Regions from separate parts of the Homo sapiens genome. Here all the other regions are linked to region 3. Evidence: fine-mapped expression QTL. A gene starts in region 3. Each other region holds a variant in brackets. All regions are shown on one strand. Distances are between the middles of the regions.

Region 1 (4,089 bases), 280 kb after region 3:
AATAGCTTTTGAATTTGGTGCAGTTGATGCATATTAAGGAGATCTTCCAGTCTGTTTCAGGAATGCATTTCAATCTGTGCTGCCAAAATCTTTGTTGGCCAGGGTCAATATTCAACTTATTAAAAGAAAAGTCTCATTCTCTTTCCCCTTTTTTCCATTTGCTCCTTCTCCAGATAAAGAACGAGGGTAACTAATGCAGAGAAAAAATAACCACCCTCAACCAGGAGGCCACGCTGCAGAAGGATCCATCTCTCTGAGTTGTCTCTTTACCCTAGGCTGGGTCTGGATGTTCAGAGCAGAGTTTTAGCAGGCATGCTTTGGAGCTCAAGAACAGGGGTCCCCAACCCCCAGGCTACAGACTGGTACCAATCTGTGGCCTGTTAGGAACCGGGCTGCACAGCAAGAGGTGAGTGGCAGGTGAGTGAGTGAGCATTACTGCCTGAGCCATGCCTCCTGTCAGATCAGCCTGGCATTAGTTCTCGAAGGAGCATGAACCCTATTGTGAACTGTACATATGAGGGATTTAGGTTGCATGCTCCTTATGAGAATCTGTACCTGATGATCTGAAGTGGAACAGTTTCATCCCAAAACCACCCTTCCCCACCCCTATACTCCCCCTAATCCCTGTCCGTGGAAAAATTATCTTCCATGAAACTGGTCTCTGGTGCCAAAAAGGATGAGGAACGCTGCTCAAGAACATAAAAGAAGTACAGACCCTAATCCTGGATGCTCGGGTAGGCTGGTGATTGGCTTTTCAAAAGCTTTATTTCTATTAAAGGAGAGAAAATAAAATGAGAAAGATACCACTTCGATGGCTGTAACAAAATTCTAATATTTAAAAGTGATACCAAAATATAGATTGTGTAAAGTAGGGAGCAGATTTCATGGTGGGAAATACAGGGCAGTGAAGTAGAAATAATTGCTGGGTTTGACATTTGAAGACCTAGGTTTGGTTCCTAGCTGGGCCACATTTTAGCGGTCACTATGGTCTTTGAGTACTTCCAGGCTCATCTTATATTTTTCCTGCTCAACACCCAAATTAGCTATTTACCAAGGAATCCTGGTTGCTTTTGATAGAGAGTGATACTTAGATCCGGGTGAAAGAAACCAAGATCTGGGGCCTACATATGCTCATTGCTATGAGGGCCTCAGTGTGTCTCCCTTTCAGTGGAGAGAACTAAGGAATGTATCTTTGGAATCATGGATTTATACTGATATCTTCAATTCAAAGACAATTCAACACAAATACATTGCCGAGTTCTTCCTCAATATCCTCCACACCATATTTGTATCTCTCTTCTTCCTTACTCATTGCTTTATTCTAGGACATAACTCAAAATATTCCAGAATCACAGTATCGATACCAGTACTGACAACAAAACTCCTAAGATCAAGATTTCTTTGCAGGTCTTTTTACCCTTAGAATAAGTCCAACTAAATGTGTATGCTTGGAGCTCAGCTTTTAAGTTACTTAATTCTTTTTTTCTATGTACTTATGTAACCAGTTTGGTAGATAGTATATCATTGTGTTGTGTTTATCCAAGTTTAGAGTGCTTCTAAAAAACTCTTTGATTTAATTTTATTTTTGAATATGTAAAACACATAATTCAAAAGTCAAAACTGGCCAGGCACAGTGGCTCACGCCTGTAATCTCAGCATTTCAGGAGGCCATGGCAGGAAGATTGCTTGAGCTCAGGGGTTTGAGACCAGCCCTGGCAACATGGCACAACCCCATCTCTACAAAAAATACAAAAATTAGCCTGGCATGGTGGTGCATACCTGTAGTCCCAGCTACTCAGGAGGCTGAGGTGTGACGAATGGAT[T/C]GCTTGAGCCCAGGAGACTGAGGCTGCAGTGAGCTGTGAGTGTACCACTGCACTCCAGCCTGGGAGACAGAGCAAGAACTTGTCTCAAAAGAAAAAACAAAGTCAAAACTACATAAAAAGTGATAGTCATTCCTGTCCTTTACCTCTTACACTCTGAGCCTATCTCACCCCCCAAATTTCACTGGTTTATGATTTAATCTTCCTGCCATCACGGCTAGGCTAGAATCACGGTGTTGGCAGTGCTATCTTCCTTCCAGGTGATGATCCGTTTCCTCGCCTTTTCCAGCTTCTAGAGGCCACCTGCATTCCTTGGCTGTGGCCCCTTCCTCCACCTTCAGAGCCAGCAAAGTCAGGCTGAGTCCTCTTCATGCTGCATTTCGCTGGCTCCCTCTCTTCTGCCTCCCTTTTCCACTTATAAAGACCCTTGCAACCACATTGGGCCCACCTGCCCAAGACAGTCAGCTGATTAGCTGTCTTAATTCCATCTGCAACTTTGATAGCCCTTTGGCATGTAACCTAATATATTCACAGGTTCTAGAGATTAGGATGTGGACATCTTTGGGGCCATTATTCTGCCTGCCGTGGATTTCTGCTATCACATTGGCTAACTACTATTGGTTTGTTTCTTGCAACCACATCAGAGGAGCCAGGAAACCTCCCAGAGGAAGTTTGAGTGTTTTCCCTACACCTGGGAACTGGTGTCAGGAAGGTTTTTGCTCACTCTTAATATCTCTGATGAAGCCTGAAATCCTGCAGGACTTAGCAATTGGTCTTGGAAGAAAAATGGCACCATTGTCAGGGCTGGAAGATGCTTTGTGCCTGAGCCAGCATCTGAGCAGCTGCAAGCATCCTTGTTGCACTCTCTTCCCCTTGAGGAATGAGGACAACGCAGCACCCACAGGTGTCCTCATCCGAAGCTGGGCTATTCTTTTACCCAGCTCAGCTCACTCAAGTTGCAAATCTGTGAATGCAAACTTGGAACGGAATGCCCTAAAACCAGCTTCAGCTAGCCCAAAGTTGGGGAGTAGAAGCGGGGAGGGGGGAGAATTATGACTTAAATTATGATTTTAAATGAACATGAGGTTGCTCTTTCCTTTCCAAAATTTGAAACCTGCCTTGCATTCCTGGCTACAATAAATAAGACTTTTGACATTTTTCTACAAGGTAAAAGGTAGACGTAAGAAGTGTGTGAGGAGATGTGTTCTCCCTCCTGCCCTCCGCCTACACTAGCAGCTCAAGGAGTTCCCTGGTTTCGATTGCCTCATTCCCCACCCTGGGCTGTTCTGTCCCTCAGGCAGGGCCTTGGGGCCTGTGAAATCAGGGGCCCCAGGAGAATCTAACAGGTGGCTTGGCTGAGGGTGTGGAGTCAAGAGGGACCTATGGTGAAGGTTGGCTCATGGAACCCTAATTTAGCTCATAAGGGTCCTTCACTAAGCTCTTCTGACCTGACACTCTATTTCTAGATGTATCCTTCCCTTTCTAGATGCGTCCTTCCCTTTCTAGATGTATCCTTCCCTTTCCTTATTCTCTGTCTTTTTCTGGGATGGGGGCTGAGTTTGGGATGTTAGTACAGACAGTGTGATGGGAGAGATCTTTCTTACTTTTCCAATTATGTTCTCTGTCTCTCTCCCTCTCTGTCTCTGTCTGTCTCTCTCTGTCTCTCCTCTGTCTCTGTCTTTCTCCTTCTCTCTCTCCCCTTCTATGTCTTCATCTCTTTCTCCTCTCTGTCTCTCTCTTTCCCCATTTGCTATCCCTCTCTGCCTCTTTCTCTGTCTTTCTTTCTCTCTGCTTCTCTCTCTCTTCCTTTCTTGTTTTCTTTCTTTCTCAACCTCCTCTGGCTACAAATGAGATCTATACCAGATTTTAAATCCTGCCTTTAACTTTGTGATAAACCACTATTCACTGCTTTGAATTTCAGAAATTAGAAATATTGAGCATATGTCCCCGTAGGCACCAGGGAAAAGCATTTTCTTGTTCACAGAGGTGTCACCTCTTTTTCCTTGCAAAATTCTGCCCTGGAGCAGATCTCATGTGTGGGCCTGAATAAAAATGTGACTAGAAAGTAATAATATGGTCGACTTTTCTTTTTTTTTTTTCCTGATAAGTGAGCGTAGTACCCTTCAGTTAGGTGCTCTGAGAGCCTAAGCATTTATTCCAGTCCACTCCTTTCGGGACATTGAGTTTAGACTCTGCCTCATATTTTGGGGGCAATTCCCAGTACTAACAAATATTTGTCTTTGGGAGTGTTTTTATTTTTGGAACCAAC
Region 2 (4,089 bases), 92 kb after region 3:
AATTGTTATGTCTTTTTGAATTCACTCCTTTATCATTACGTAATGACTTTCTTTGCCACTTTATGTTTTTTGACTTAAAGTCTATTTTATCTAAATTATATTTTGTCTGGTATAAGTATAGCTACTCTTGCTTACTTTTGGTTTTCATTTCTGTGGAAGATTTTTTTTTCATCCTTTCCCTTCCAGTCTCTGTGTGTCTTTATAGGTAATGTTTTTTGTAAGCAGCATATAGTTAGGTGGTGTTTTTTAATCCATCTGTCCAGTCTATATCTTTTAATTGGGAAATTTAATTCATTTACATTAAAGGGTTTTTTTTTCAATTTTAATTTTTTTATTTTTTTAGAGACAAGGTCTCGTTCTCTTACTGAAGCTAGAGTGCAGTGGCATGATCATAGCTCCCTGTAGCCTTGAACTGTTGGGTTTAAGTGACTGCCCCCCTGCTTCAGCCTCCCGGGTAGCTGGGCCTACAGGTAGATGTGTGCTACCATGTCTGGCTAAATTTTATTTTTATTTTTGTAGAGATGGGGTCTCATTGTATTGCCCAGGCTGGTCTTGAACTCCTGGGCTCAAGCAATCCTCCCATCCCAGCCTCCAAAAGTACTGGGATTACAAGCATGATCCACTATGCCTAGCCCTACATTCAAGGTTGTTATTGAGAGATGAAGGCAAACTCTTGTAACTATGTTAAGTATTTTCTGGTTGCTTTGTATATCCTTTGTTTCTTTCTTCCTCTCATTGTTTTTCTTTGTGGTTTGCTGGTTTTCTTCAGTGGTAATATTTGATTCCTTTCACTTCCTCATTTATGTTTTCGCACTACCAGTGAGTTTTATACTTTTGTGTGTTTCCATGATGGCAGATATCATTCTTTTGCTTCCAAATGTAGGGTTTCCTTAAGCATTCCTCATAGGGCCAGTCTACTGGTGATGAATTCCTCCAATTTTTGCTTGTCTGGGAAAGACTTTTATTTCTTCTTCCTTTTTGAAGGATAGCTTTGCTGGGTATAGTATTCTTGGCTGGTTTTATATATATATACATATATATACACATATATATATATATATACGTGTATATATATATATATTTTTTTTTTGGTCAGCATTTTGAATATATCATAGTGAACTCTCCTGGCCTGTAAGGTTTCTGCTGAGAAATCTGCTGTTATTTTGATGAGGATTCTGTTTTATTTTACTTGATGTTTTTCTCCTGCTGTTTTCAGACTTCTCACTTTGTCTTACTTTTGACAGTTGAACTGCAATGTGCCTTGGAGAGGACTTTCTTAGGTTGAATATATTTAAGGATCTTAGAGTTTCCTGGATCTGGATTCTTTCTCCCACAAAGGGAAGTTTCCTGCTATTACTTTATTAAAGAGGGTTTCTATGCTTTTCTCCATCTCTCCTCCATTTAGAAATCCCAAAATATGAATATATGTTTGCTTAATAGGATCCCACATGTCAGGTAGGCTTTCTTCATTCTTTTTTATTCTTTTTTTCTGAATTCTGGTTTGACTAGGATATTTCAAAAGACCTGTCTCTATGTTCAGAAATTCTTTCTTCTGCTTGATCTAGTCTCTTTTTGAGGCTCTCAATTTTTTTATTTAATTCATTTAATTATTCAGTTCCAAGA[C/T]TTTTTGTGATAAATATCTCTGTTGAATTTCTCCATGAATTCTCATGAATTGTTTTTCTGATTTCGTTGAATTTTCCATGTTCCCATGTATCTCACTGAGTTTCCTTAAGATCATTATTTTAGATTCTTTTTTAGGCATTTTATGGATTTCCTTTTCTTTGTTCTGTTATTAGAGAATTACTGTGTTTCTTTGGAGGTTTTATTGTTTCCTTGCTTTTTCGTGTTTCTTGTATCTGTACGTTGATATCTGCACTGTTAGCGAAATAGTTTCTTTTTTTCAGTTTCATGGAGTATCTTTCATAGGGAACAGAGTTTTTTGTAGATGTATGCTATAGTATCATTTGGGTAGGATGCTTTGGGTTTGATTCTGGGTGAGCGTAAAAGTGTAGTCTTCGTATGATTTCTTGGACTGTAATCACTGTCAGTGGTGTCTGCAAGTGCCTCAGTGGCTTAAGCTGAAGTTGGTTTTGGAGGCGTGGTGTGGCTTTACTGAAAACAAGGACAGTGGGTGGGCTGGTTTTCAGGCCTCCAGGCTGCGTATGTGGCAGCTTACTGCTGGAGGGAGCAAAGTTGTTGGTGGAGGTAGTAGCAGGCCCCATGCAGTCAGCTTTCAGGCTCTGGGGAGACTGTGCATTGGCTCCCTTTGTTCTAGGGGAAGCCTTCCTTCTGTGCTGGACCACCTGTTCTACAGGGTGTAGGATGCTGCTTGGGTTCAGGTGTTGGGATTAGAGCTGCACTGCTGGGTCCAGCTGGTATCAAAACACTGCAGCTCTTTGGGTGGATACGGTGAGATGTTGACAGGACCCCAGGGATGTGGAGATGCTGGGGCCCCTAGGAGGATGCACTCTAGTGTGAATCCAGTCTCCAAATGGTGCCTTGCTGCAGCAGCCTGGGACTCAGGGAGTAGGGGCTACCCAGCATGAATGGTCTTTCTAGAGTAAAACAACTGCATGGATGCCAGGTACCTCCCTTTATGGGGCTCAAGGCCTATGATGGCTCTGGCTAAGATTGTAGGCATCTGTGGTGTGAATGTGGTCTGCTGTGGACCTTTAGCTTACTTTTTCCTATAACAGGGAGTCCCCCTTGGCTCTGAGTCAGTCCTGGCTGGCTGCTTTTCTTTCCTCTGTGCTGCCATCCTGAGCTTCTGTCCCTCGGAGGGTCTTGTTGCTTCTTTGCTGAATTCCAGTGTTCTCCCTTGGACATTTTACTTGCTGTGTGGTTATCTATTGTTTTAGTTCTTTGTGGATGAGGTGATTGCTGGGTGTGTCTCTAGTAGGCCATCTTAATGACGTCAAGCTCCTTGATTTTTAACGTTAGTTTTACCACATATGTAAGTCTAAACTACATTGTTTAATTTTGCTTGTTTTAGGGCTTTATGAAAATGGATCTATGTAGTATGCAGTCCTTTGACTTCCCCAACGCCTCCCCAATTGCATATTGTTTCTCCAAGTCATCTGTGTGATTGTGTGGGGAGTGGTGATTTCTTGGTTTTCACTTTCTTGGTATGATAGTGAATCATGTGACTATACCACCTATGTATCTTCCCTCCATCAGGGTTATTTTCTCTTCTTTAACTGTCATAAGCAGTACTGCCCTGAGCACTGTGCATGTCCCTGAGGCACAGTGCAAGAGTTTCTGTACTGCATATAAGTAGAAGTGGAGCTGCTGCCTTGTACGTATGTCAGTATTCTGCATTACAAGATAAGCCCACATTGGTTCCAAAGTAGTGATTCTGTTTTACTTTGTCCAGCACATGATGTGTATTCCCATTGATTTTCAACCTTCCTAACACATTATCAACCTTTTTCATTTTTACCCATCTACTATAAAATGGGATCGTATTGTGGTCTCAGATTATGAATGAACTTGAGTTATTTTTATGTTTATTCACCATTTGTGCTACCTGTCCTTGCAATGACTGTGTATTTTGCCTGCTGCCTAATTGAGTTATTGGTCTTTTTGTTGTTGAATTGTAGGAGTTCTTATATATTCAACACCAGTCCTGTACGATTATATGTGCTGTTTCCAACAGTTTCTTTACAAGTATATTTAATCCTATTTTGATCTATGAAAATCAATAATTCCTACATGAGAATTCACTGTTAAGCCAGACTTTCTGTTTAACTAGAACAGTCCTTTTTTTTTTTGTACCAGCAATAGATAACCACTATTTATAAACCTTAGCATTTTCAAGTCACAAGAAAATCTTGTGTTCTCACAGCTGTGCCGAAAGGGCTATATGCATTTTGTTTTGTTTCAATGTTCAGCAGCATATTTTAAAATTAAATTTTGGAGTTGATAAAGATAAATGCAAATTTTTAAATGCTGGAATTTTATTAAAATGTTTTTTTTTTTTTGGCCAGGTAACTAGTCTTAGACAATTGCCTTCTCAGTCATTTAATGAGCTTTCCTAAACTTTATCTTTCATTATCTGTGGCTGCACTAATCATTTGCTAAAAAGAATTG
Region 3 (4,089 bases):
TTCTCCCAGGAGCTGAGGTGCCTGGTAGACTCTTGGCCAGGCCTGAAACCATGGGAGGAGGAGCTGGTCTGGGGAGCAGATGAGTTTCATTTTGAACATGGTGACCTAGAAGAGATGCTGCGCCATGTTTAGGGGGTGCAGATTAGCTGGGGAGCTCTGCAGATTAGCAGGGGAGCTCTCTAAGGCTACAGGTCTGGGGGTTAATCAATGAAGGTTTAGACAGGGAGTGTACAAAAAACAATCAACTCTCTCTTTAAAAAAAAAAGGTGCGTATCAGAATAAAAACAAAGGGCCACCATCTGCCTTGGGGATATCACTTTTACAGGGTGGGAAGACAACAACCTCTCTAGAGGAGGCAGATGGGCAGGTCAGAAAGGTAAGAGAATCAGAACTGGCTGTGTTTGATGAATGAAAAGATGATGGTGTTTCAGGAAATAGCAGAAATGCCACATATTTCAGAAAACTCCACAGGATAAAGATTGATAAAGGGCCACTGGATTTAGATAGAGAATGACATCGGTGACTTCTAAAGAATCAGAGAAAGAAGAGGCATGCAAGAACCACGATTCAGTGAAAGTTTACAAAGCAAACAAGCTACAAACTGGGTCAATATTGCTATACTTATTTTGAGTAAATTAATCTAAAATTGGGCAGACTGATGACTAGAATTCTTCTTTTCTTATTGTAAAGCTAGATATTAGTAACACAAAACTTGCACAAAAGGATGAACTGAAGTAGCTTCTTTCACAAGGTCAAAACAAGGAAAAATGAGGCTGTTCTGATTCCCTGAGCTTGTACCTGATTCCTGCTCAGTGTACTGTGCTTCCTTCCACTTACTGAGCTATTGAGGGCTACCTACTGCCAGGGTACTTCACATAGGAGGTAAGTAAATATTATCTCCCCATATGACAGATTTTAGAAAGGCTGAGGACCACCTGTGCAACGTTACACAGTTCAGGAAGTCAACAGTCAAACACTCACCTGTCTGACTTCAAAGCTACGCTGACTCTAGTTACCTATCCTTGGGTACTTCCCTTCTGGAAGGAAGCAGGAGATGAGTGAATCAAATAATACAGCCTTGTAACCTTGGGTAAATTATTATTGCCTTAATAGTAAGCAGAGACCAGGAGCCTAAGAAAGAATCTCATTAACATGGATGCAGGCTATCCTGCCAGGAAATCAGAATCATTTGAATATTAGGATTTCCTTTGGGAAACCATATGGGGAGGAGAAAAGACATCCGGATGCATGTGTCTGTGAAAGGGAAACTTGTGTCTTTCCCCTTGCTCTTGGGTTTTCATCTTCCAAGTTTGTTTATAGGCTAGCCACAACTCGAGGCTGGGTGAGCTGAACGGTCCCATCATTAGCGACACTCCTTCTAGGGGCACATTCGGGCAGCTCCTCTTCGGGTTCTGCCCCCACGGGTGTGCAACCAGGATTCCACAGGCTGGGGCTGGCCTGGATGCCTGGGAGGCAACAGAGGTCGAGTTTCTTCTTCTTTTAGGAAGTGCCTCGGACAGGGATGATGGACTAAAAATGTGTCTGGTTGGGAAAGTAAATAGATGCAAAGCAAATAAATAAAAATGCCCACAAGCAATTACAGGGAGGAAGTGACATTTTTATTTAAGTCACTTTTCTGATGGACAACAGGCCTGCTTAGCTGAGTGCCGTGGGAATGCTTCCGGGAGGGGGGCGGCTGCCCAGCAACTAGAGCTTCGTGATAAGAACAACGAACAAACAAAAAAGAGGACGCAAAGCCCACCCGGCAGTCATCCCAGGCTGGAAGTTGCCGTCTGTGTTTTCACTCTCCTCCCCACCCACCTACCCTGCCCCCCACCGCCCGCACGCAATTTCGGGCGTGGGGACCCTTTCCTGCCCCCGGCGCCCGGCCCGTGCTGCGCCTCCAGAGCGGAGCGTCCCGCAGCCCCGCGCTATCCCGGCGCCCGTACCGGGACCCGGGCGCGGAGCCTGGCGACGACGGGGGGCGCCCCAGGTGGGTCTCGGGTCCCCGCCCCGCGCGCCCGGGCCTGGGCCGGCCCCTGGGCGGCGTCACGGCGCGGCCGGGGAGGAGCGCGGGAGGAGGAGGAAGAGCGCGGAGGAGGCGGGCGCTGCGCGCCGGGGGAGGGTCGCCGCCGCCGCCGCCGCCGCCGCCGCCGCTGCCGCGGGGATCGTCAGGCCGGAGCCGCGCGGCCGAGCGGGCGGCGGGCGGAGGGGAGGGCTTGGCGGCCGGGAGGCTCGCGGCGCCCGGGCCGGCAGGGTCCGCCCGGGCCGGCAGCGTCCGCCCGGCGGCGGGAGGAGGGAGCGGCGCAGACAAAGAGCGGCGCCTGGGCGGGCGCAGCGCGGCCACCGCCCCGGGACCCGCGCCGCTGCCCTCCGGCTCCGCGGGCGGCCCACGGCGAGGTAAGCGCGGCTAGGCGGGCGTGGGGCGGGGGCCACAAACTTGGGGCCGTTGGGCGGAGTTGGGAGCGCGGCGGGGCTCGCGGGCCGGGGTGCGCCCGGGAAGGGGCCAGGAGAGCGGGTCCCCTCCGCGCCCCTCCGGTGCTCTCGGCCCTGCCGCGGCCTGGGCGCCCCCGACCGCGGACTGCCGGGCACCTCCCGGCTCTGCACCTTCCTGCCCGCCTTCCCATCCCTAACCCCCACCATCGGGGGCCGGCCCAGGGGCGGGGACGCCAGCCAAGGGCGCGGGCGAGGATCAGGGCAGGGGGCCCGGCTGCGGGGCCCGGGGACTGGAGACCCCCGGGTGCGCAGGCTGCGCCTGGCCTGCAGGCGGGCGGCCGGCACGGAGCTCGGGGCTAGCGTGGGACCGTGCGGTGGCCAGGGTCGCCAGGGCGCGTGTGCCGGGGAAGAATAGCCGCGGATCGCAGGGCCCCGGCGCAGGGACGGGGGAGGCCGCGATCGGCCGGGAGAACTTAACCGTGTTTATTACAACTATTTATGTTCGCGCACAAAGCTGCTGTCACATTGCATAAAGGAGGTCCTCGCTTCGGCGAAGGGAGCTTTTGTGCCCGGCTTCAGGCTCTGCGCCCTGCCCCAGATTTACAGGACTCTAACAGCCACCTGAATGAACCAAAGTTTCTCACAATCGCTCGGCTCTCTCGGTTTTTTTCAGGGCGATTTAATCACCGAGTGCTTTTGGAAAAATTTGATATGTGAGTTTTAAGGCATGGAGGGTAACTGCCTTATGAGCACAGTTAGCTTGGCATTGTGTGGAGGGGTTTAATTTGCAAAACGCTTTAATTTGTAGACAATGGGGATCTCTGTGAAGGTCTGCGGTGGATGCTAGGGGTCATTGGCTGGTGGACCCCAGGCACCTGACTTAAACTAGTATTGTAACAGCTTCAGGGACAAAGCCGAGCGTGCGTGGAGTCGGCCTTGGCCACTTCACACAATTCAGGTTGGCAGATTCCTCTTTATTTGGCTTTGTTTATTTTGCCAACAGGTTTAAGGCTGCTTCTGCCAAGTTTGCATCTGCATAATGGGATGAGCAGGCCCCAGTGTGGGCAGGAGGGGGCCTAAAATATCGCAAGGGCCAGCTCCGTCCCTCGACCCAGAAAGAAACAACCCTGAGAGGCCGGTGGGCGTGGCTTGCTGGGACCTACAGGTAGGGGAGTCCCTTCCTGGCCCAGGCGCAGTCCCCGCTTCTCGGAAGGGATTTTGTGTAGGAATGAAAGTGATTCAGGGTGTTTTTCATGCCTCTGTTTTAGATGTAGTTATCAAGTCTCAAAAGTGACTGAAAATGAAATTAACCTGGGCCGCTTTAACTTACCAAAACGGAACTGTGCGTGTGAACACTCCCTCAATTCACTTTGCAAGCTTCATAGATAAGCAGGTGAATTAGTAACAGGATTCAAGCCTTGCGAGTTTTACGTAAAGAGAATGGCAGTCATCGGACACGTGGAGAAGAAATTGACTTCACCTGGAGATTGGGCTAGACATGGAGGTTTTTTGACGTTTGGAACAGGGGTTTCCTGAGAAGCAAGTGTTAACCTGCTTGTGAAGAAGTGAACACGAGGGAAAATCCTACCTCAGTATATTCTGCCCTGGAGGTTGGTTAGATGTAGTTTTGATTGGAGAAGGTGGCGGAATCTT
Region 4 (4,089 bases), 66 kb before region 3:
CTGGAGTGAAAACCAGGCAACATATTCTCTAGATGCTGTTTCCAGGATTTTGGTCACTAGATCAGGAGAGGTCCTTGAAGTCCTGCAAACAAAATCCAAGAACTTCATACTTCAAAAATTGGGAAACCAAGTCCCAGCTACTCAGGAGGACCACTTGAGCCCAGGAGTTTGAAGTTTGAGACCAGCCTGGACAACATTGAGAGACCGTGCCTCTCAAAAAATAATAATAACAAAAGAAATTGGAAAACAAAGCTTGAGCTTCTCAATTCTATCCTAACACCTGAACCATTTCCTGAACAAAAGTGTTTCTCTCTAGCTGTTAGCCCAGCACATGGCTGCCACAGATGGAGGATCCCTCAGCACCTTTGCCTCATAGCTTTGCAACCATACACTCTCAGGTCCAAGGCCACTTCTGCTGTACACCTTCTCCCTCCCTCCCTCTCTCTCCCTCTCTTTCTTTCTTTCTTCCTCTTTCTTTCTTTCTTTTCTTTCTTTCTTTCTTTCTTTCTTTCTTTCTTTTCTTTCTTTCTTTCGTCTTTCTTTCTTTCTTTCTTTTTTGACAGGTTTTCACTCTGTTGCCCGCAGTGGAGTACAGTGGCATGATCATAGATCACTGCAGCCTCGAGCTCCTGGGCTCAAGTGATCCTCCTGCCTCAGCCTCCTCAGGTGCTGGGACTACAGGCACATGGCACCATGCCTGGCTAATGTTTTTTACTTTTTGTGGGAATGCAGTCTTGCTATGTTGCCCAGGCTGGTCTCAGACACCTGCCTTGCTGTGTCGCCCAGGCTGGTCTCAGACACCTGCCTTGCTGTGTCGCCCAGGCTGGTCTTGAATTCCTGGCCTCAAGCAAGCCTCCCACCTCGTCCTCCCAAAGTGTTGGGATTACGGACATAAGCCACCTTGCCCGGCCACATACAACTTCTCTTTGAACAGAGAATTCAAATACCTCCTAAGCACTCCTTTAGAAAAACTTGCTTCCTAACTCTCCTGCAAATTTGATTCATTTGTAGGCAATGGGCCTTATGCTATTCATTATTATAAAGTCTTGCTTTATCATTACTGTTGAAGAGAAAAGTATTGAACTTTGGCGTTTTGCATTTAAACTCTTTTCTAGGATCCTTGAGCCGAGTGAATGGAAACCTGAAGTCAACCTGGCTACTCTGTCTTTTTGCAGTGTCCCAAGAGCAGACCCTCAACCAGGAGTCTAGGGCAAGTAGTTTATCTCCAAGGAGAGGAGAGAAGAAGGGATGTGGGACAGGGAAAAGAAGAAACCAATAAAAGGTATGTGCTATGGATTGAATGTTTATGTCCTCCCTAAATTCGTTTGTGGATGCCCTAATCTCAATGTGATAGTATTAGGAGGTGGGGTCTTTGGGAGGTGACTAAGTCATAAAGGTAGAGCCCTCATGATGGGTTAGTGTCCTTGTAAGAACAGATGTGACACATGAGAGCTTGCTTCTCTCTCCTCCATGAGGGCAGAACAAGAAGGACCATCTATGAGCCAGGAAGAAAGTGAGCTCTCACCAGGAACCAAATCCACCAGCACCTTGATAGTGGACTTCTGGGCCTCCACAACCGTGAAAAATAAATGTCTGTTGCCCAAGCCCCCTAGTTCATGGGATTTTTGCTGTAGCAGTCCCCGCCAGGACAGAATGCTATTAAGCATTTTACCATTGAAGGCAACTGGTGTTCAGTGAATCTGGGGAGCTCTGACTTTCTGGAACGTGTGTCTCTCATAGGGTGGAGAGGGAGCTGGGGTGTCTATCCATCAACTCAGGTCAGTGGTTGAAGGTTGCTGGGGCTGGGTGGGGTATTAATTTGCTGCTTCTCTGGATTGCTGAATCTCGAGAGTCCAGGAAAGGACCAGAGATGCAGGTGCTGGCGTTGAACCATCCAAGGCTCTGGCTGCAAGGGTAAGGGCTGAGGAGATGGGCAGGGCACTGTTGTGCCTGCTGAACTTCCCC[G/A]TCACCAACTCATCATGACGTGCAGTCGATTTTCCTTTCTAAGAATTTGCAAGATATTTAGCAGGAAAGCTTTCTAAATTCCCTACTCTCATTCTGCAACATCATCTCCTAACTAAGACTGGTGGGTGGGTGTGTGTGTCTATATATATGTGTGCAATATATGCCTCTTCTCTTTCTCACATATGCAGTGAGTTATATAATACGAGTCAGGCAAATATCGTCACATGGCATTTGTCTGGAAAGCTCCTTCTCCCCGGAGGCCCTTCCCTCCCACTTCAGCCAGGTACCTCCTACTCTTCCTTCCCGTGTTAGCTCGGTCATCACTTCCTTGGTGAAGTCTTGCTAACCTTCCTTCCTGGTTGGGCTCATTCTTACTAATATATACTCTCAGCACAACGTATGTCTCTCTTTTGCAGTACTTATTGGTGCTGTGATTTTTGTTTTTATATTCCCTGGACAGTTTATTGTAACCTCTTGTTAAATCACAGGTGACCCTTAATATCTGGAGACATGCAGGCATTCTGATTTTCCTTTATAGGGGTTTGAGGGAGGAAGCAGAAGGTAGAAAGGTGAAGCTGGAGATGACCATGATGTAGAAAACCAGGGAAGTTGCTGATGGGTGTATTTGTCCACATACGTGAGTGATATATGTCTGCTGCTTTTGTCACATGTGCACTGTATGTAGGTGAGTCTTCAGATGACTATTATAATGTGGCTGTGTGAGTGCCGTGGGGTGGGGCACCATACTGCAAAGTGTACTTATCTGTTGTGAATTTCATTATCTTGGAAAGCACTAACCCAATCAATTGAACTGAGCAATTTCATTTCACTTACATTTACTCCTTTGTTCTTCCCAATTTTGTCTGTTTTCTCTTCACTCCTGTCTACCTTCTATCCTAGAACATCTTTACGATACTTTAATACTTGAAACCCCAAAAGTGATATGCAAGAAACTATGACACCGATTAGGAATCCTGCTTTTCTTCCATGTAATTAGATAAACATACACTTGGGTTGCAGGGCACCATATGTCCCATGTTTCCAGGAGCAGACTGGCAGTGAGAGTTACCCACCCATGCCCCTGAGCACCCACCATTCCCTGCATCCTGGAGACAAACATCTGAGCATTTTTCCCAAGGGCTTCCCTGGCAGCCAGAGACCATTGTGCCATGCTAAAGGCAGGCCAGGAGCTCATGAGAGTCGATCCCATGAGGAGGAACCCTCAGTTAATGTCCCTAATGGGACAGGGTAGATAGATCCCCAGCTCCCTGCCCCTCTGCTGGGGCACCACTGAGGCATGGCCAACACTGTCTATTGTACTTTCCCTGAAGGCTGAGCCGCACTGCCCACGGGATCACTTGCTTCATAATGCACCTTTTGTTGGCTTTTGCATTCCCTTCTCTGTCTCCTGCCCATGTTTCCAGGGATCCCCTTCCAAAACAAATGGTTAACTTTGAATCTTCGTCTCAAGGTATGCTTCTGGGGAAACTCAGGAAGAGGAAAGCGATTTACACAAACAAAAGGCCTCATTGGTTCTGCAGTTATCTGGCATCTTTTACTTGCTAAATGTGACCTGTCCTCAAAACCATAACTGCCATCAGTCGTGTTATTTTTCCACCTGCTACTTTGTTACGGTTCTTCCACTGGCTACTTTGTTATGTTCTTCTTAGCACAGGATGATTTTTAAAATATCCTGAACTCTTGGAAAGAAACTGTCATTACCCTAAATGGAATGAAAACCAGGATTTCCACCTAACACCTAAGACCTTGCAGACTCACTTCCATCCCTTGAGGTTCAGTCTCTGCCTGGGGATTTCTCACTACTTATTGCTGCTGCCTCCTCCAGCCTCTAGAAAGTGACTTCTCTCTTCACCACTCCGGTCCTCAGAATTCCCCAACACCTAGCTGAAGTCAAGCGGGATATTTTGACAGGACTTTGCAAATGCTACGCCATCAGCGGAATGCTTTTGACCTGTGGCCTCAAAGTCCCTTCATTCCCTTGACACATATCTAATGGGTAGCACTGTGCCAGGTACTGCTCTAGAGGCTGGGGAGAAAGCTGTAAATAAAAGAGATAAAACGCCTGCTTTCTTGAGCTCGAAGTAGGATGAAGCAGTAAGGGAG
Region 5 (4,089 bases), 25 kb after region 3:
ACATACTGGGTGGTTCCCAGCACTTAATATGCACTTAATAAATACTAATTCCTTCCCTCTCTATTACTCACATCCCCGGCTCTCATCCTTAAGTAGTTGCTGTCTTTCTACATGTGAAAAATTTGAGACAAAAAAATGGACATCAGTACTTGTGTTTTCAGAAATGAAGACATCTCAAGCAGCACTGTCCAGCAGAAATAGAACATAAGCTGCCAGTGTGTGCTAGATGTGTAACTTCACCTCTCCCAGTAACCACATGAAAAAGGCTACAAATTTTAAGTCTTCTGTAGTCCAACATAACCAAAATATTTCAACATATACTCAAATAATTGCTAATGCCATTCATTTGCTTTCTTTGCCTGTCTGTAGAGTCCAGTGTGTGTTTGCCCTCACAGCAAGACATAGCTGGACTCACCACCCCTTGAGTGCTCAGTGGCCGCGTGTGGCCGGTGGCTGTGTTATCAAACAGGTCTCTGATTCTCTGACACCACCTAGGTGTCCCCTAATTTGGTTCAGTTCTGACACTAGCTTTTCAGGGTTCGTGCCGGCCTCACAAGTTTTGAGGGCTAAGTCCCACAAGACCATCCCCATTTCCGTCACCAGTTGCATGTCCTAAGCCACCTGTACTTCTGATCAACTGGCTGTAAATTGGGGTTCCCATGACCTCACTTCAGGTTCCATAATTTGCCAGGACAACTCACAGAACTCAGAAAGGCACTTTGCTTATTGTTAGTGGTTCCTATAAAGCTAGGTTGTCCAACCCGCGGTCCAGGATGGCTTTGAATACGGCCCAACACAAATACTTAAACTTTCTTAAAACATGATGAGTTTTTTTTGAAATTTTCTTTTTCTCATCAGCTGCAGTTAATGTTAGTGTATTTTATGTATGGCCCAAGATGATTCTTACAGTGTGTGTGGCCCAGGGAAGCCAAAAGATTGGACACCCCTGTTTTAAAGGATGCAACTTAGGAACAGCCCAAAGGAAGTGACACATGGGACGAGGGGTGGGAGTCCCCATGCCCCCTGGGGGAGACACCTCCTAGTGCACCATCCCAATGAGTTCATGACGTGGAGGCTCCCCACATCCCATTTTTCAAGAGTTTTTGCAGCCCAGTCTCCTGGCCCCCCACCCCTCCCAGAGGTTGGGGTGTAGGGGGTGCAGAAAGTTCCCACTCTCTAATCACACGTTTTGTCTTTCTGGCAATGACCAGCTCCCCTCCAGGCTATCTAGGGGCACCCCCCAACCCCACTGGTCACCTCATTAGCATAAGCTCAGGTGTGGTGCACTGGGGCTCTCTATGAATCACTAAGGGCACTCTTGTTGCTCAGTAAATACCAAGGGCTTTAGGAGCTCTATGCCAGAAACCAGGGACCAAGACCAGAGATCTTTTTTATTATCCACCTGGGCAGCCCTGTCAGCCTGCTGCCCCGCCCCACCCCTCCCCTCCCCATCCCCAGCTGGCTGCGCCCTATTTAAAGCCCTCCTCTCAGTAAAACAGCTGATGCGTGCCTATTTTACATTCTTTTCTACCCTGGGTCTGACGAATCATGACTCTCACTGTGCTGGTAACTCCCCCGTTCTTGCTTCTCAGGAAGCAAATGTAGGAAAAATATAGTAACATTTCTAAGGAAGCTTAGAGATACAAAATGTTTAAATGTAGCACAAAAATTGTGACTCTACTTATAATAACGTACAGAAGAATAACTCCACAGTAGAAGTTAGGCATCCATGGCTGCAGGTTTTCTAAGAAATGGGACGTGTGGGTGACCTACTGCACTGCCCACTGCCCTCTGGAGGGAACCATGGGGTAATTAGAGTCATTGGCCAAGAAGGGCCAGGGGTCCACGCAGCTTCCGCCCTGAGGAGTTGCACTGTGCAGTACAGCCAGGCGGCCACAGGAGCCACTGTGGCAGGGAATGCATGTGTCAGTGTGTCAGGCGTGGTCAGTAAAAGGAGTTGTAGAAGGTAAACCGGAGAAAAACTCAGATTTTAATCCCTCGGAGTAATCTTTGGCCTCTCCTCCTTCCGTGTGTGATGTTTCTTTGTTTTTAATTTTTTGACCTTCTGCTTTTTGATTCGGGATTTTGGAGCCAGAATGCCTTGGCCCCGCCATGAGGTCTGACTTGTGCTGGCTACTTTACCCTTGGTGCCTCCATTTCCTTCACTGGAAAATGGGTGATTGTGCAGAGTACAGTGAGTCAAACCATTGAGAGTGGTGCCTGGCACACAGCATTATTTAAGTATTTTTGCACTTAATTTCATGTAACATAAAGCACTAATAAGTAAAAAAAAAAAAAAAAAAGAAAAAGGTATATTGCAACAAGAAAAAGGATGGTGCTGTG[G/A]ACATGGGGTGTGGTTGCTAAAGGAATTTCTAAGAATCAGACTTCAAAAAAATGTTAATATTCTGGACAGAATTCTTTTCTACAGAATTCTTTGAACTTTAAGAGCATGATTGAAATTTCTGTTACAGTGTGACTCCAGTTAGAGGTAAACTTAGTGGCTCTATCTAATGCTGAGATCTTTTTAAAGGATGATGTTTGCATCTGGCTTTGATCTTTTGAGAGGTAGATTTATGTGTCCTGATTAAAAAGTACAGTGCTTTTCTTACAACTAAGAAGGCCTGAAACTTACTGTAAGGTTGTGTGTGTGTATGCGAATGTGTGTTTACATAACTGATCATATTTAAAATCATTTTCTTAGAAGTAGAAGGCTATAGAATATCTGTCATTTTTAGAGTGTGTAGATATGCTCTAGAAACAGACCACTGATCTGTAAAATGATCAGGTCAGTGATTCGGATTTGATTCTTGTGTGAATCACAGAGTGCTATATTGCCTAGGATATGGATATCGATATTTAGTAATCTGAATTATTTTTCATTATTTTAAACTTAAAGATCTTTAACAGGTCAAGAAAAATAATACTTCTGAAAATGTATTTCTACCCCTTTAAAGTATTTCAGATCCAGGAAGTCATTTTGGGTTAAACAGTTTGGCATTTCAGTTTGCTTATCATTTCAATCTTCAGTGTTTGGCAATTCTGATGTTAATATCATGATTTCTTTTTGTTTGTTTGTTTGTTTTTGCTTTTGTTTTTGTTTTGAGACGGAGTCTCGCTCTGTCGCCCAGGCTGGAGTGCAGTGGTGCGATCTCAGCTCACTGCAAGCTCTGCCTCCCGGGTTCACGCCATTCTCCTGCCTCAGCCTCCCGAGTAGCTGGGACTACAGGCGCCCGCCACCATGCCCAGCTACTTTTTTGTATTTTTAGTAGAGACGGGGTTTCACTCTGTTAGCCAGGATGCTCTCGATCTCCTGACCTCGTGATCCGCCTGCCTTGGCCTCCCAAAGTGCTGGGATTACAGGCGTGAGCCACCGCGCCCCGCCCAATATCACTATTTCTATCCCCTTTTATATTTTCCATTCTGACTTTCTAGTAAAAAAACATGAGGGCTGGCGGGGTGGCTCACGTGTGTAATCCCAGCACTTTGGGAGGCTGAGGCAGGTGGATCACCTGAGGTCAGGAGTTCAAGACCAGCCTGACCAACATAGTGAATCCCCGTTTCTATTAAAAATATAAAAATTAGCTGGGTGTGGTGAGGGCGCCTGTAATCCCAGCTACTTGGGAGGCTGAGTCAGGAGAATCACTTGACCCGAGAGGTGAATGTTGCAGTAAGCCGAGATTGGGCCACTGTACTCCAGCCTGGGCGACAAGAGTGGAACTCCCTCTCAAAAACAGAAAGACCTAATTTAGACAAATATTTCAAGAAGTTTCCCATTGTTTCTAATCATGTCACTTAGGTAGAAAGTAATGTTCTTTTCTTATCAATAGAAGGCAGCTTTTTTAAAGCTGATGTTTCTCAAATAGAGGCTACTGAGATTTGCTTTGAGTTCATAAAGCTTTCTAGAAAAAGCATGTACCTGGGTTGACCGCTACTGGCAGCTTTTTCTAACCATTGTTTTCTTCTGTCTGAAGTAAAAACCCTCTGGTGTGAAAGCTGCCATTCCTTTGTGAGGCCTGCCCATCACTCAGATCTATATTTTTCTCCGCAGCTGTTCCCAGAAGCTTCCTCAGACTGACTTCCTCCCTCCCA
Region 6 (4,089 bases), 36 kb after region 3:
TCTGCTGACCATCCTCTGTGGCGTGGGAAGTGGTGGTGTGTAAGAACACACCTGCCCTTAACACTGTGTGCATGGGGACCAGGGAAGGGCGGTGATGGCAGAGGGAAGAAGCCCTTGGTTCTGGGCAGCCTCTCCATGGGGATTTGCCGGCAGAGTTAACTCTCACAGAGTAATGCAGGATGCTGGTGGCTGCGTGAACCAAAGGTGCCCCTATTAACTGGAGTTTCTGCACATTCCTCCTTAGGCTGGGAAATCATGCCCTTGTTACTGCACTGGTTATGTGTATCAATTGAGATAATGGTTATTTTTTTCTTCTTTCATTTCTTATTATTTTTGTAGAGACAGGATCTCACTCTCTTGCCCAGGCTGGAGTGCAGTGGTGTGATCATAGCTCGCTGCAGCCTCAAACTTCTGGGTTCCAGTGATCCTCCTGCCTCAGCTTCCCAAGTAGCTAGGACTATAGGCACACACCACTATACCAGGCTAATTGAGATAATGGTTATTTTTTTTTTCAAGAGCTTTAAGAATATGCTTTAAGAATATCTTTTTTAAACTTGGAAATTCAATATTTAAATGTTAAAACAAATAATTGAGAATAATTTTCATTAATAATCCATCATAAGGCTGGGCACAGTGGCTCACACCTGTAGTCCCAGCACTTTGGGAGGCTGAGGCAGGTGGATCACTTGAGGTCATGAGTTTTTGGCCAGCCTGGCCAACATGGTGAAACCCTGTCTCTACTAAAAATACAAAAATTAACTGGGCATGGTGGCACATGCCTGTAGTCCTAGCTACTCTGGAGGCTGAGGCATGAGAATCGCTAGAAACTGGGAGACAGAGGTTGCAGTGAGCCGAGATTGTGCCACTGCACTCCAGCCTGGGCAACAGGGCGAGACTCCGTCTCAAAAAAAAAAAAAAAAAAGAATCCGTCATAAAATGTGTTTATTAAAATCACTCCTGAAGAAAACAGAAAACACCTAGACTTGAGGCTTTTAATCTTTTTTAATTAACTAAAGGGGATACTTTAAGTTGATTGCCATGTGACTGTTATATATAGAGCTTCAGTCTGTCTGAATATGGCTGCATCTCTGCCACCTACCAAGTGGTGGGTGGCTGCGTCCAGCTGAACTTGGCTTCCTGGAGCTGGGTGCAGCCTCCTGGCTGCAGACCTGAAAAGGACTGCCCATTCTTTGTGCTTTACACTTGGCCTTGTGGGCAGATGGAAAGGAGAGCTTGCTCTCCGCCCACGGGAGACGTATGCAGGTGGAGGAGAGGAGGAAAGAGCTTTGATTTTTTTTTTTCCCACTAATCAGCTTTTGAATTGAGCCTCTTGGTCAGACCATGATTTAAAACGCACACTCACATACATATACATAGTAATTCCCTAGCAGAAATGTAGCTTTGTAGAGTCCTCACGTTCTGTATGATGGATTAATTCCCTTAGTTATAGGAAGGAGAAACTGATATGGGGAAAACAGCCTGAATGCCATAGCCTACGAGACCGCCTTCACCCTCTCATTCAGGATAGCGTGTACATATCCACATACTTCACAGCTCAGCGAATTCTCAAGACCTCCTGTGTGTGCTTCCTTGGGTTATTTAATTCAATTCTACTCTTTTCATAAACTACTCTAATTTCCGTTTTTCCAGTTTTGCCTTTACCTTATTCAATGGCATTATTTTAACTGAGCATATTTTGGACGTACTAGAAATGAAGCATATTTCCTTTGTTTTAAAATTTCTGGTTGCAAGATTAATCAAGAATAATAAATATTTATTGTAGAATATTTGGAAGGTTTTTAAAGTGAAATTTCTATTAATAAAACCATTGCTTCTCAGCATCTAGATTAAGTTGGGACCTGATAGTCATAAATATTTAGATGTCTGTCACATTTATTTCCATAATATGGGAGAGAGATATATACACACACACACACACACACACACACACACACACACACATTCATCTAAAGGACACACACACATACTCTCTCCCTTTCTGGCTCTCTCATTTTCGTTTGGTATCTGGGTTAAAATTCTAATGTTCATCCTCAAATCCTGCTTCTCGCTCATGTCCTGTGTCACATCCATATAGATGTTGAATAAAGTGATAACCACATTTTTGTCATCTATACCTGGGCACTATTGAGAGTGGGAGGGGTGCTGTCTGTAATTATGCTGAAACATCAGTCACCA[G/A]TCAGAGCCCCTGGTCACTGATGTGGTCTGAATGTGTCCCTCATATGTTGAGATCCTACCCCCCAAGGTGATGGTATTTGGAGGTGGGGCCTTTGGGAGGTGATTAGGTCGTAAGAGGGGAGCGCTTGCAAATGGGATTAATTTCCTTACGGAAGACACCCCAGAGGGCCCCCTCACCCCTTCAGCATGTGAGGACACAGCAAGAAGCCGCCGTGTAGGAACCAGGAAGGAGGCCCTTACCAGACACTGAATTTCCTGGTACTTTGATCTTGGACTTCCAGCTTCCACAACTGTGGGAAATAACTTCCTTTGTTTATAAGCCACCATTCTGTGGTATTTTGTTACAGCCAGCCAAATGGACTACCACAGTCACCCAGCCTTGACTAAGTGACCCTCTCTTTTCTCATTGCCCGAATCTAGATTTTGTCTCTCACCTGGTCGTGGTCTTCCTGTCTTCTTGCTTTCAGATTTTTCTCCCTCCCACCCACCTATTCCGGGGTTGGCTTTCAAAGATACAGATCTAATTGTTTTACTTCTCTTCTTATAAACTATTAGCTTCCCATTTCCTAGAGGTGCCTTTGTGTTGTCAAAGCACCTTTAAAATCTGATCTTTGCTCCACCTTCTACCATTCAGCCCTTGTGAATTTTATGAACATGATTACTCTAGGTATTCCCAAGGGAGCCGTGCACTTTTTACACCTCTGTGCCTTTGCAGGTCCTGTTGCTGACACAGGGGCAGCCTTCTCCCATCTCCGCTTCCACCTCCACCACTCATCCCTTCCCACACTGCAAGACTTGACTAAATGCAATCTCCCTTTTGAAGCCTTCAGGATTCCCCCAGCCAGAACTAGTGACCCTCCTTGGCCTTCTAGTCCATGTACGTCTGTTTCGTAATATTTCTGCACTCATTCCTGGAAGGCAGTACAGCCTAGCAGTTAAGATCTGGTTTGCTGGCATGAATCATGACCTGCCATTGCCATAGTGTGACTTTGGGCTGGCAGAGGTCTTTGTGCATCAGTTTTATTATCTGAAAAATGGAGAAAATAGCAGTCTTGTAAGGTAGTTGTTAGGTTTATAATAAAGAGCAATGCATGAAAAGTACAGAGCCTGTGGCTTGGCAAGTGATAATCCTGCAATTTATGTTGTCTGTGACAGAGCTGTCGCCTCTCCGCAGTACGAAAATTTGTAGACATGTCTGTTTCTCCAGTTGGAATGAGTCTGTGATAAGGACTCTGGCCACGTAGTGATGCTCATTAGGCATTTGCTGAATGAACTGGTATACGTGCATATGTATTCTTCCCTCTTTATTTCTTGCCGTAAATGCTTTTAACTGAAATAGGTACATACAGCTGTCAGTTTCTTGACTATGAAGTTGAGAATGTCCAAGTGAGTCCAAATTACCTGAAAACCTGCGGCCCATCAGGTCCCTCAAGCTGAGGGAGGAGCTCCTAGACAAAGACCTGGTTTCCCAGGTTTGAGGTCCATTCCTTCCTTACTCTGTTCTTACTATGACTGCGGGAAGTTGCTTTTGGGCTTCCGCGAGAGTGGGAGCCTATCACCGATCATCTCTTTCCCCTCTCTTTATAGGAGTAAGGGGACAACCCTCCTGGTCTGGCTGTAGGCAGGCGGGGTGGCCGGGCCCAGGGACTCAGGGTGGCCCTTCCTTCTGGTGTAGATGGATGGATTATCAGGCACATCCTGCTGATGGCTTCCACCAGCCCATGGGGATTAGTGATCTGCCTTCTCTCTCTGCCACCAAAAATCTCCCTAAAACTAGTTCCACTCTCTCCACAGCAGGTGTCAGAGTTGGGTTGATGGCCATTTGAGGACTTGAGAAGAAACAGTCTATATAATGAACGCTCTTTTCTTAAGTATTAAAGTTACTTTAAATTC

Alleles and levels. Positions count from the first base shown, and alleles are read on the strand shown. Sizes are in standard deviations (SD) of each study's normalised expression. Not every link is listed here.
For the expression in tibial artery of the gene that starts at base 2,174 in region 3, allele C in region 1 goes with a lower level than allele T (small effect, 0.24 SD a copy in GTEx).

Evidence for each region. PIP is the estimated chance that this variant, and not a neighbour inherited with it, causes the effect.
Region 1: its variant is fine-mapped to the expression of NCK2 in tibial artery (GTEx, PIP 0.95).
Region 2: its variant is fine-mapped to the expression of NCK2 in whole blood (TOPMed, PIP 0.96).
Region 4: its variant is fine-mapped to the expression of NCK2 in whole blood (INTERVAL, PIP above 0.99).
Region 5: its variant is fine-mapped to the expression of NCK2 in whole blood (TOPMed, PIP above 0.99).
Region 6: its variant is fine-mapped to the expression of NCK2 in whole blood (INTERVAL, PIP above 0.99).

What each region holds. Positions count from the first base shown.
Region 1 is chr2:106,021,454-106,025,542 of GRCh38, forward strand. No RefSeq gene overlaps it. Among named protein-coding and RNA genes, the nearest start is that of ECRG4, 42 kb to the right of the region's middle. The variant T/C (reference allele first, on the strand shown) is at 1,824.
Region 2 is chr2:105,834,344-105,838,432 of GRCh38, forward strand. The region is part of intron 2 of NCK2 (NCK adaptor protein 2); the gene reads left to right. Among named protein-coding and RNA genes, the nearest start is that of NCK2, 91 kb to the left of the region's middle. RefSeq lists an enhancer at 825-874. The variant C/T (reference allele first, on the strand shown) is at 1,624.
Region 3 is chr2:105,742,739-105,746,827 of GRCh38, forward strand. NCK2 (NCK adaptor protein 2) reads left to right here and starts at 2,174. Exons shown (of 5, transcript NM_003581.5): 1 at 2,174-2,400. RefSeq lists silencers at 1,825-2,144, 2,335-2,394, 2,505-2,894 and enhancers at 3,265-3,334, 3,435-3,484.
Region 4 is chr2:105,676,315-105,680,403 of GRCh38, forward strand. No RefSeq gene overlaps it. Among named protein-coding and RNA genes, the nearest start is that of NCK2, 67 kb to the right of the region's middle. The variant G/A (reference allele first, on the strand shown) is at 1,966.
Region 5 is chr2:105,767,840-105,771,928 of GRCh38, forward strand. The region is part of intron 1 of NCK2 (NCK adaptor protein 2); the gene reads left to right. Among named protein-coding and RNA genes, the nearest start is that of NCK2, 25 kb to the left of the region's middle. RefSeq lists enhancers at 1,394-1,896, 1,897-2,399. The variant G/A (reference allele first, on the strand shown) is at 2,344.
Region 6 is chr2:105,778,403-105,782,491 of GRCh38, forward strand. The region is part of intron 1 of NCK2 (NCK adaptor protein 2); the gene reads left to right. Among named protein-coding and RNA genes, the nearest start is that of NCK2, 36 kb to the left of the region's middle. RefSeq lists an enhancer at 1-3. The variant G/A (reference allele first, on the strand shown) is at 2,197.